2 linked regions of the Homo sapiens genome follow. The gene in region 1 interacts genetically with each later gene. Each region holds a gene or a part of one and is shown on either strand. Other genes may lie near its edges.

Region 1 (4,514 bases):
TCTGTCTGTAATGGAGCAGCCGGCAGGTTGAATAAAGGCTTGCCTGAACTTGGGTCTCGGTCTCTCTCGGTCTCTCTCTCCCTCTCTCTCTCTCTCTCTCGTCCTTTCTCTCGGCTAACTTCACAGATTGCACATAAAAAAGAAAAGGGGTTCAGAGAAGGTAAGTAACTCCCTAGAGACCAATAAGTGGCACAGAAGGGAATTTGGGCCCTCATCTGTCTGACTCCAAAACCTGGCTTTATCTATTCACCGGTCCTTATAACTCAGCTAAAACGAGGGTTAAGCAAGTGCCATCATTTATGACTGTGAACCTCTTCAAAGTTCAGATTGTTCCTGAACAATCAAGCATTTCAAACTCTTACCATCAAGTAAGGAGATAGCGTTACATCGTGTGTAGGCATATGGGGATTAAAGATTACATTATATTTTCCAAATTGCACTTGAGAATTGACTGTGCCAATTATATCCTTTCTGGGTATCTACCTTGTTCACAGTATGTGGGATCCAGGTTGAGGAACAGCATAAAATTCTTGTACCCTGTTGCAAAAATTTATTAGTAATCCATGCATACTGGTTTAGGATTTGAAAACAGGTTTTATAAAAGGTTTGCTAGGTATCGATCTAATTTCAGGAATACCCTAGTAGGGAAATTCAGTGACCTTTACAAATTTACCCGTGGCCAAAAAAAAAAAATAAGTAAAAATTAAAAATCAGAACACATCCAAAGTAATTATAATTAAAATTAACCAAAGTTCCTGATCCAATCCTGATAAGGGGTATTAGGTTTAATATTTACAGATAATTTATGAAGAAAAAGATTACGGTTCAAAGTCTACTTCAGGTATTTCTATTTACATTTCTTGGAAAAGTTTCCCAGGGCTCTTTCTGCCCCAGCCGCCAATCTACAGAAGAGTCTAGTCGACTGTCCACTCATTTCACAGCACTTGTCTGAAACTAGAAGACCCAGGGAGGGAACAAGGTTCAGGCTTGAAACGCTAAGACATTCAAGATTTCACCTTGTATGCAAAAATCAGAATGGGAGGCTGCAGCGGGGCCTCACACTCACCGGAGCTAGGCGCTATAGATCCCGCACCCGCGGAGCCCGGCAACCACCTGAGGGGCCTTGGCCAGGAGGGGGTGGCCCCCCGGCGCCGGCGGCAGCTCCGGAGCAAACCTGGCAAACCCGAGCAGGGCGGTGCGGGTTGCTCAGGGAGAAAATGAAGGGAGTGATAGGGTGGGGGTGGCAGGGAACGGGCACAACGCCGGCTTCCTCCGGACGGCCTCCTGCGTCCCACCTGTGCTCCTGAAAAGCGGCCCCCGACAGGGCGCGGCGGGAACCCGAGCCGGGAGTAGGGTCACGAGTTAAAGCGGCGGGGGCGGGAGGATGCGCGGGCGGCGGACGGGGCGCTCTCCTCCCGTCTGACTCTGGGCGGAGCGGGGCTCGAGGCTGCTGGAGTCGCTCGCTGACTCGCCCTGCGCCCTCGCCGCGGACACCGGAGCTGCGGCCGCTCCCCGCTGTCCCCCAGGTGAGCCCGCGGGGCGCTGCCCCGGGGCGTCGGGTGTCGCGGGAACGGCGCCCGCGGCGCACAGGGAGGGCCGGGGAGGCCGGGAGGCAGCGAGCTGTCGGGGACGCCGCGGGAAGGCCGGGCCGGGCAGTCGGCGCCATGGAGGGCAGGCGGGCTGGAGCTGGGCGCGAGATGCAGCTGTTCCGCGCCGCCCCCAAGCCGCCCGCAGGTCAGTGGAGGAGCGCGCCTGCCGGGCCTGCCCGGGGCTGGGCGGGTGGGGGTGCTCTGCTCCTCGGTCCCCCTCCAGGCCGCCGCCCACCTGTGGCCAGGGCTCAGAGGGCTGGAAGCCACCCCCGCCCGGAGCCCCTGGGCTGGAAGGCTTGGATGCCGGCCGGGGCTCCAGATGGCCTTGACGCGGCTCGGCTGGCCCCTTTCAAGGCGGACTGTCCCCCTGTTAGAGGTGGGGGCGGCTGGAAGTGGGGGCTCAGGCCCGGGTCGCTGCGCTGGCTGAAAGCAGCCGCCAGCCGGGCTGCGGCCGTCTGAGCTCCACGGCAGTGCCCGGGGATGGCAGCGACCGCTCTGGGACATCGCTGCAACCCTGCAGATCTTTCTCGCACACACTACCCAACAAAAGTGTCAACCCTTGTTGTTTGTTTGTTTGAAAAAAAAAGAAGACTGGAGAGACTAAAGTTTTGTGTCTGGTGAAGTGGGAAAGCGCTTCTGAAAAAACGAGGTTGCATAACTTTGTCGCCAACTGGGAGGCCTTTGCTATTTATACACTCCCGGGCTTTCTCCAATTTTCTACAGCTTACTCCAATCAAGCCTCTGCCCGCCAGGAACAGGTAACCTGTGTGTGTCCGTTTGCTCCTTCTAAGAGCATGCCTGATAGATACTTCGGTAGCCTCTCCGGATGGCCCCTTCGTCGGGTAGCCTCTCCTGATGGGGTCCTTCGCCCACCCTGCCTCCCGCGCCGGCGCTCCGGGTGAATGTCAAGGGTGGCTGGCTGCGAATACCTCCTTCAGCTGCTGGGGTTCCCGACAGTTTGCAGTTTTTAAAAGTGCACCCTCGGAAGGGCTTTTCAGACTGGGTAAACCTGACTTTTCCAAGGTCAGCATCTGGTCCTGGTGAATGAAATGTCTACCGGGACAACTCGTTGTGATGTGCTGAATATATGCTGGTTGGCTTGTTTTCTCTTTGTTCCTGTGGATTACTGTACATGGTGTGTGGCTAGTTTGTTTAAAATTTAATTTTCCCTGTATCAAAGTGGAAAGCGCTTAGTGTCAATATACAACTCACCAACATGCTTATTAACAGCTTCATCATTATGTTGGTGTTCATATGCGAGCTTTGGTCAACATGAAATCATCTGCGTTTTAAGTCCTATAGATAAAGTCTCCTTAAATGCTGGTTAAAATATCCTGCCTTTTTGAAGGAAGTAAAACTGTTAAGTGAAAATCCTAATTTATTAATAACTTTTTCTTTCCTTTATGCCTTTACCTAAGAATTACTGCATTTATGCTTTGACAGGCATTTTAACACGCACACAGGAGCCACACTTTAATGAGTTATATAATAATTATTTCATTTTGAAGGTACTGCATTTGCCATACAGTAAATATGTTTTATGGTTTATTCATCCAGCAGTATCCTTATTAATCTTTTCATTAACAAGAGTTTAAGAACCTTCCCCATGCTATTCTTTATAGCCAGTATCTATTGTTCGGAGATGTTGGGCTTCCTAAGAATGCTTGAATTGGAATCAAAAGTGGGGTTCTAGACTTGGAAAGCAGCATGGTATCTAACCAGTGACTTGTAAGATATTGTATGAATGCAGGTTACAATTTTCCTTCTTCATTGCTGAGTACAAGTTATTATTAAAATGTCAAATAAAGCCTGCCTTTCTATTCCGTATGGAAGGACGCTACTCATTGTTTGGGGTATTTTACTTTGAACAGGTTTCCATAGTATAATATCAATCTTAGTCTGAGGGAAAATCCAAGATCCATCCCAGTCTCTAGAGTGACTTCTCCGTCACTTTGAAAAAACTGATTCTGAAGACAATAAAACCAGCCCGACCCAACCCTTTTCAAACGTACCTGCCCCCCCCCCCAAATAGATATGAAGTACTTTGAAAATATGCTATAAATATAAGGCCTTCAATAAAAAGTCATTACAAGCGATGCCACAGACTGGGAATTAGGCTTAAATTGAGGGCCCATTTTCCCCTTTGTACAACAGTTATGTTTCCTGAGGCTCATACTGCCCCTTAAGAACCTTACTGGCTTTCTAGGAAGCCACCCTGTCTGCTGTGGGTGTTAGGTAGGTGAGTCTGCTTAGCGCTAGACCCTATGCAAAGGCTTTGTTTACTGTTTTATTTAATGCTCTCTACACTCATAACTATTTAATTCTGGCTACAATCATAGAAGGGTAGGTGTAGTTATTCCCATTTTGCTGGAGAGGAAACTGAGGCTCAGAAGGGCTAAGTGATTTCCCTGAGATTGCAGAAACGTCAAGTCATGGAACCAGGATTAGAAACCAAACTGAATCTTGTTCTTTACACTACACCCTGCTATCTTTAACTCGGTGGTTTTAAACATTTTTTGATAATCTGTGAAAGTTTTAGTTACCTCCCAGGAAAAAGTGTCCACAGCCACATATATGAAAGTTTTCATATAACTTCAAGGCCCACCTACCCTCTGAAGTCCTTCCCCCAGGTCCTCAGGTCTCTGATCCTCTAACTATACTGAGTGAGGCAGAAAACATATACATCCTATATATATGTACATATAATCTTTTACTAATGGGAGCAGCCCTTGAATTTGGTAACTTTGAACTAGGTGAAAATTCACTTTGTAATTAAAACAAATAAAAAAGTGACGTCCTACATTGGAACTGATTCTGTAAACATCTAAAATGCAGTTTAGAGCAATGGTGCTTATTTGAAACCAGGACTTCTGTATGGGCTTCTCCTTGCAATATTAAAGAATATGGACTTGTGTCTTTACTCAC
Region 2 (3,515 bases), on another chromosome or scaffold:
CATCTTTGCATGCCAGCACAGGGGATGAGACCCTTTGCACCAGCCGACCCAAAACCTCTCAGGCTGCCACCGGCACACAGGCGTGAGGGATTGTGACCCCAGAACCAGAGCTCGGGCTGACAGGTGTGGGGATTAGGATTTGTGCGACTCTGGAGCAGGCTCTATTCAGAAAGGGGTGGGGTGGTCCAGGAAGGCTTCCTGGAGGAGGGGATAGCTGCAGTGTACAGGGAATGATGAGGAGTCTGAAGCACTCACCATGGGGTGCCCATAGGCAAGCTGTGCCCCTCCTGTGTGCCCTCTGGGTCTGCTGCCCCCACCCTAGTGGGCTCCTGGCACCCTCTGCCTCTCAGAGCTCCCTTTCCTCGCCTGAGCCCCAGAGCCGCCTCTCTACCCTCCCTCAGCCGGGGGTCCTCATGTCTGCTTCCCTCCGTAGGACTGGCCGTTTGACGATGGGGCGCCCCCGCCCGGCAAGGTAGTGGAAGACTGGCTGAGCCTGGTGAAGGCCAAGTTCTGTGAGGCCCCCGGCAGCTGCGTGGCTGTGCACTGCGTGGCGGGCCTGGGCCGGTGAGTGTCGGGGCGGGGTAGGGCTCGCCATGTCAGGTGGTTGGGCATCTCGTGGTCTGACAGCCTCGCTTTTGGATGTGGGTCTTGAACACACGTCCACGCGACCTTCCCAGGAGGCCCATGCCCCTAGTGCTGGGGCTCCCAGACTGGTCCTCTCCCAGCATCACAGAGAGGAAGTGCTTCCCAAAGTCTAACCCAACTTCTTCCTGCTATGGTTGAAACCATCCTGACATCTTGTGTAGGAAAGGGCTGCCGTCCCCCTCTCCAGACACAAAGATCCCCCCACACACAGCTGGGGCCTCAGACTCCCTGCTGGGAGAACGGGAGGAAGAATGGCAGCTGGGATCGGATGACATGACCAGTGGGACACCCCCATCTGCAGAGGGAGACCCAGGCGAGCAGAGTTGATAGCAGGCATGGATCCGGCTCTTAGCACTTCACCCGCCAGCTCTTATTTAACCCTCCCCCAGCAGATCACAGAGAGGTTGCCTAGGAGGGAGCCAGGATTTAGACCCAGTGCTCAGGCTGGGCTGTGAGGCTGTGGCCTCCATGGGGGAGCTTCAGGCAGGGGGGATTCTGGGCCCCTTGGGCCCCCGTGCCCTGCATCTTCAGCAGGTGCCCTGCCAAGGGGACAGGGGTGCGCAGGCTCCGATGACCCCCGCCCTGCTGTTTGCCCCCAGGGCTCCAGTCCTTGTGGCGCTGGCCCTTATTGAGAGCGGGATGAAGTACGAGGACGCCATCCAGTTCATCCGCCAGTGAGTGGCCGCGGTGGTGGGGTGGGCTGTGAGCGCTGGGGGAGGGGAGATCCGGCTGCCCACGAAGGGTGGCGGCATTGGCTGTGTGGTTCCGTCGCTCTGAGGCTGCGTCGATCAGCACAAGCTGGGCCTTGCTGCAGAAACGGGGAAGCCTGAGGTGTTTCTGATGGGTGGGGACAGCAGCCCCCGAGTGACCATGCAGCCACACAGGGACACAGCGAGGCCACCCGCCACGCCGTCCTGCCCGCCCTCCACAGACAGAGCTCCTTCTGTCGCAGCCATCCTGACGGGGGTGGAAGGACCCCCAGAGCCAGCCAGTTCAGTCCCTCCATGAAAAACTAGAACCTGAAACCCCACACCACACCGTGTCCACCCCCAGGGACGCTGACAGTGGGCTAGTGTCTCAGGACTACTCTGAGTCTAGCTGCTCACCACCCCTCCCCCCAACCCCGAGCTCTCCAGCTCAGCCCCTCCCCGCCCTCCTTAGAGGCTTCTAGGCCAGCTCGCCTGCCCCATCCCTGTCACTTGGTGGCCTCCCTGGGGAGGGCTGCCATCTGCCCACTGCCCAGGGGGTCCTGGGGGAGTCTGGCCGGGATGGCAGGGCCAACTCTGGAGGAACGGATGCGGCACCTGAAGCCTGCCCCTGCCCAGCCCACCATGTGTGTGCCCGTGAGTGTGACACACCTGTGGTACTCCTCGGACAGGCTTGGCTGGTGGGGCCATCTCTTCCTCCCAGAGGCAGGCTTGTTCCCAGCCATGCCAGCTGGCCCTGTGGGTCTGTGTGAGAGTGTGGCCCGCCCTGTGGGTCTGCGAGAGCGTGGCCCGCCCTGTGGGTCTGTGCGAGAGCGTGGCCTGCAGGTGCTCAGGTCTCCCTGGGGACCATGGGATGTGCACGCTCACACACAGACACGCATGGGGGTCATACAGGCACACATTCACAAGCACATGTGTGCCCACACAGACCCAGGCATACGCAGGCACACACTCACAGGCAGGTGTGTGAACACAGGCACATACAGACAAGCGGGTATTTGCACACATGGACACACATGGATGCACTCAGGCATGTACACACGTGTGCACTCATACATGACATGCACTCTCACACATGCGGGTGCACACCTTCCCCGGGTTCTCTCCCCACCCCACGTCTCACCGAGCAAGGGCTTGTCTCTCCCTTGTGGCTTTTGCTGTGTGGCTCCCCGCACCTGAGGCTGCGCTGGTCAGGACAGGTTGGGCCATGCTGCGGAAACAGCCAGGCCTGAACCCCAACGACTCAGAACAGCACGGGCGTTTCTTGCCCCTGTTGCGTGTCTGTTGGTGGGGGCCCTACCCGGAGGCGTGGCTGAGGGCTGCGCCTTCCCCAGTGTGCCGGCTGCTGGGCGAGGAAACGAGCACGGTGGAGCCACACGGGGCACCTGCAGCTTTGCTGGGCAGAGACTCCTCGCGCTACTGCTGCTCCCACTTCCTTGGCCAGGGCCAGCCTGTGGCCACGCCTGAGGTCATGGCAGGTGGGGATGGATGAGCCTCCAGAGGCGCTGGGTGGGCAGCCCCCGCCCCTCAACGCCTGTCACCTCAGGGCCTCTCAGGTGTGGCTGCAGCATCCTCTCCAGGAAGTCTTCCTGTTCACCCCAGCCAGGTACATGTGGTCAAGGACCAGGTGGCGGGGCAGGGTGAGCACATAGCCCAGGTCCCTGCTGTAAGGACCAGGTGGCGGGAGCAGGGTGAGTGTACAGCCCAGGTTTCTGCTGTAAGGACCCGGTGGCGGGGACAGGGTAAGCGCACAGCCCACGTCCCCGCTGTAAGGACCAGGTGGCGGGGACAGGGTGAGCACACAGTCCAGTCCCCGCTGTAAGGACCAGGTGGCGGGGACAGGGTGAGCGCACAGTCCGGGTCCCCGCTGTAAGGACCAGGTGGCGGGGACAGGGTGAGCGCACAGTCCGGGTCCCCGCTGTAAGGACCAGGTGGCGGGGACAGGGTGAGCGCACAGTCCGGGTCCCCGCTGTAAGGACCAGGTGGCGGGGACAGGGTGAGCGCACAGTCCGGGTCCCCGCTGTAAGGACCAGGTGGCGGGGACAGGGTGAGCGCACAGTCCGGGTCCCCGCTGTAAGGACCTGGTGGCGGGGACAGGGTGAGCGCACAGCCCACGTCCCCGCTGTAAGGACCAGGTGGCGGGGACAGGGTGAGCGCACAGTC

Evidence for each region.
Region 2: of MCOLN3 (region 1) and PTP4A3, changing one suppresses a phenotype caused by changing the other (phenotypic suppression), as found in Homo sapiens cells (one study listed by BioGRID).

What each region holds. Positions count from the first base shown.
Region 1 is NC_000001.11:85,045,408-85,049,921, reverse strand, and holds the start of MCOLN3 (mucolipin-3), read left to right. Parts: upstream 1-1,421; 5' UTR 1,422-1,526; intron 1,527-1,656; exon of another isoform or gene 1,657-1,664; coding exon of another isoform or gene 1,665-1,734; intron 1,735-2,312; exon of another isoform or gene 2,313-2,347; intron 2,348-4,514. UniProt on the Homo sapiens protein: Nonselective cation channel probably playing a role in the regulation of membrane trafficking events. Acts as a Ca(2+)-permeable cation channel with inwardly rectifying activity.
Region 2 is NC_000008.11:141,426,506-141,430,020, forward strand, and holds part of PTP4A3 (protein tyrosine phosphatase type IVA 3), read left to right. Parts: intron 1-433; coding exon 434-564; intron 565-1,244; coding exon 1,245-1,319; intron 1,320-3,515. UniProt on the Homo sapiens protein: Protein tyrosine phosphatase which stimulates progression from G1 into S phase during mitosis. Enhances cell proliferation, cell motility and invasive activity, and promotes cancer metastasis.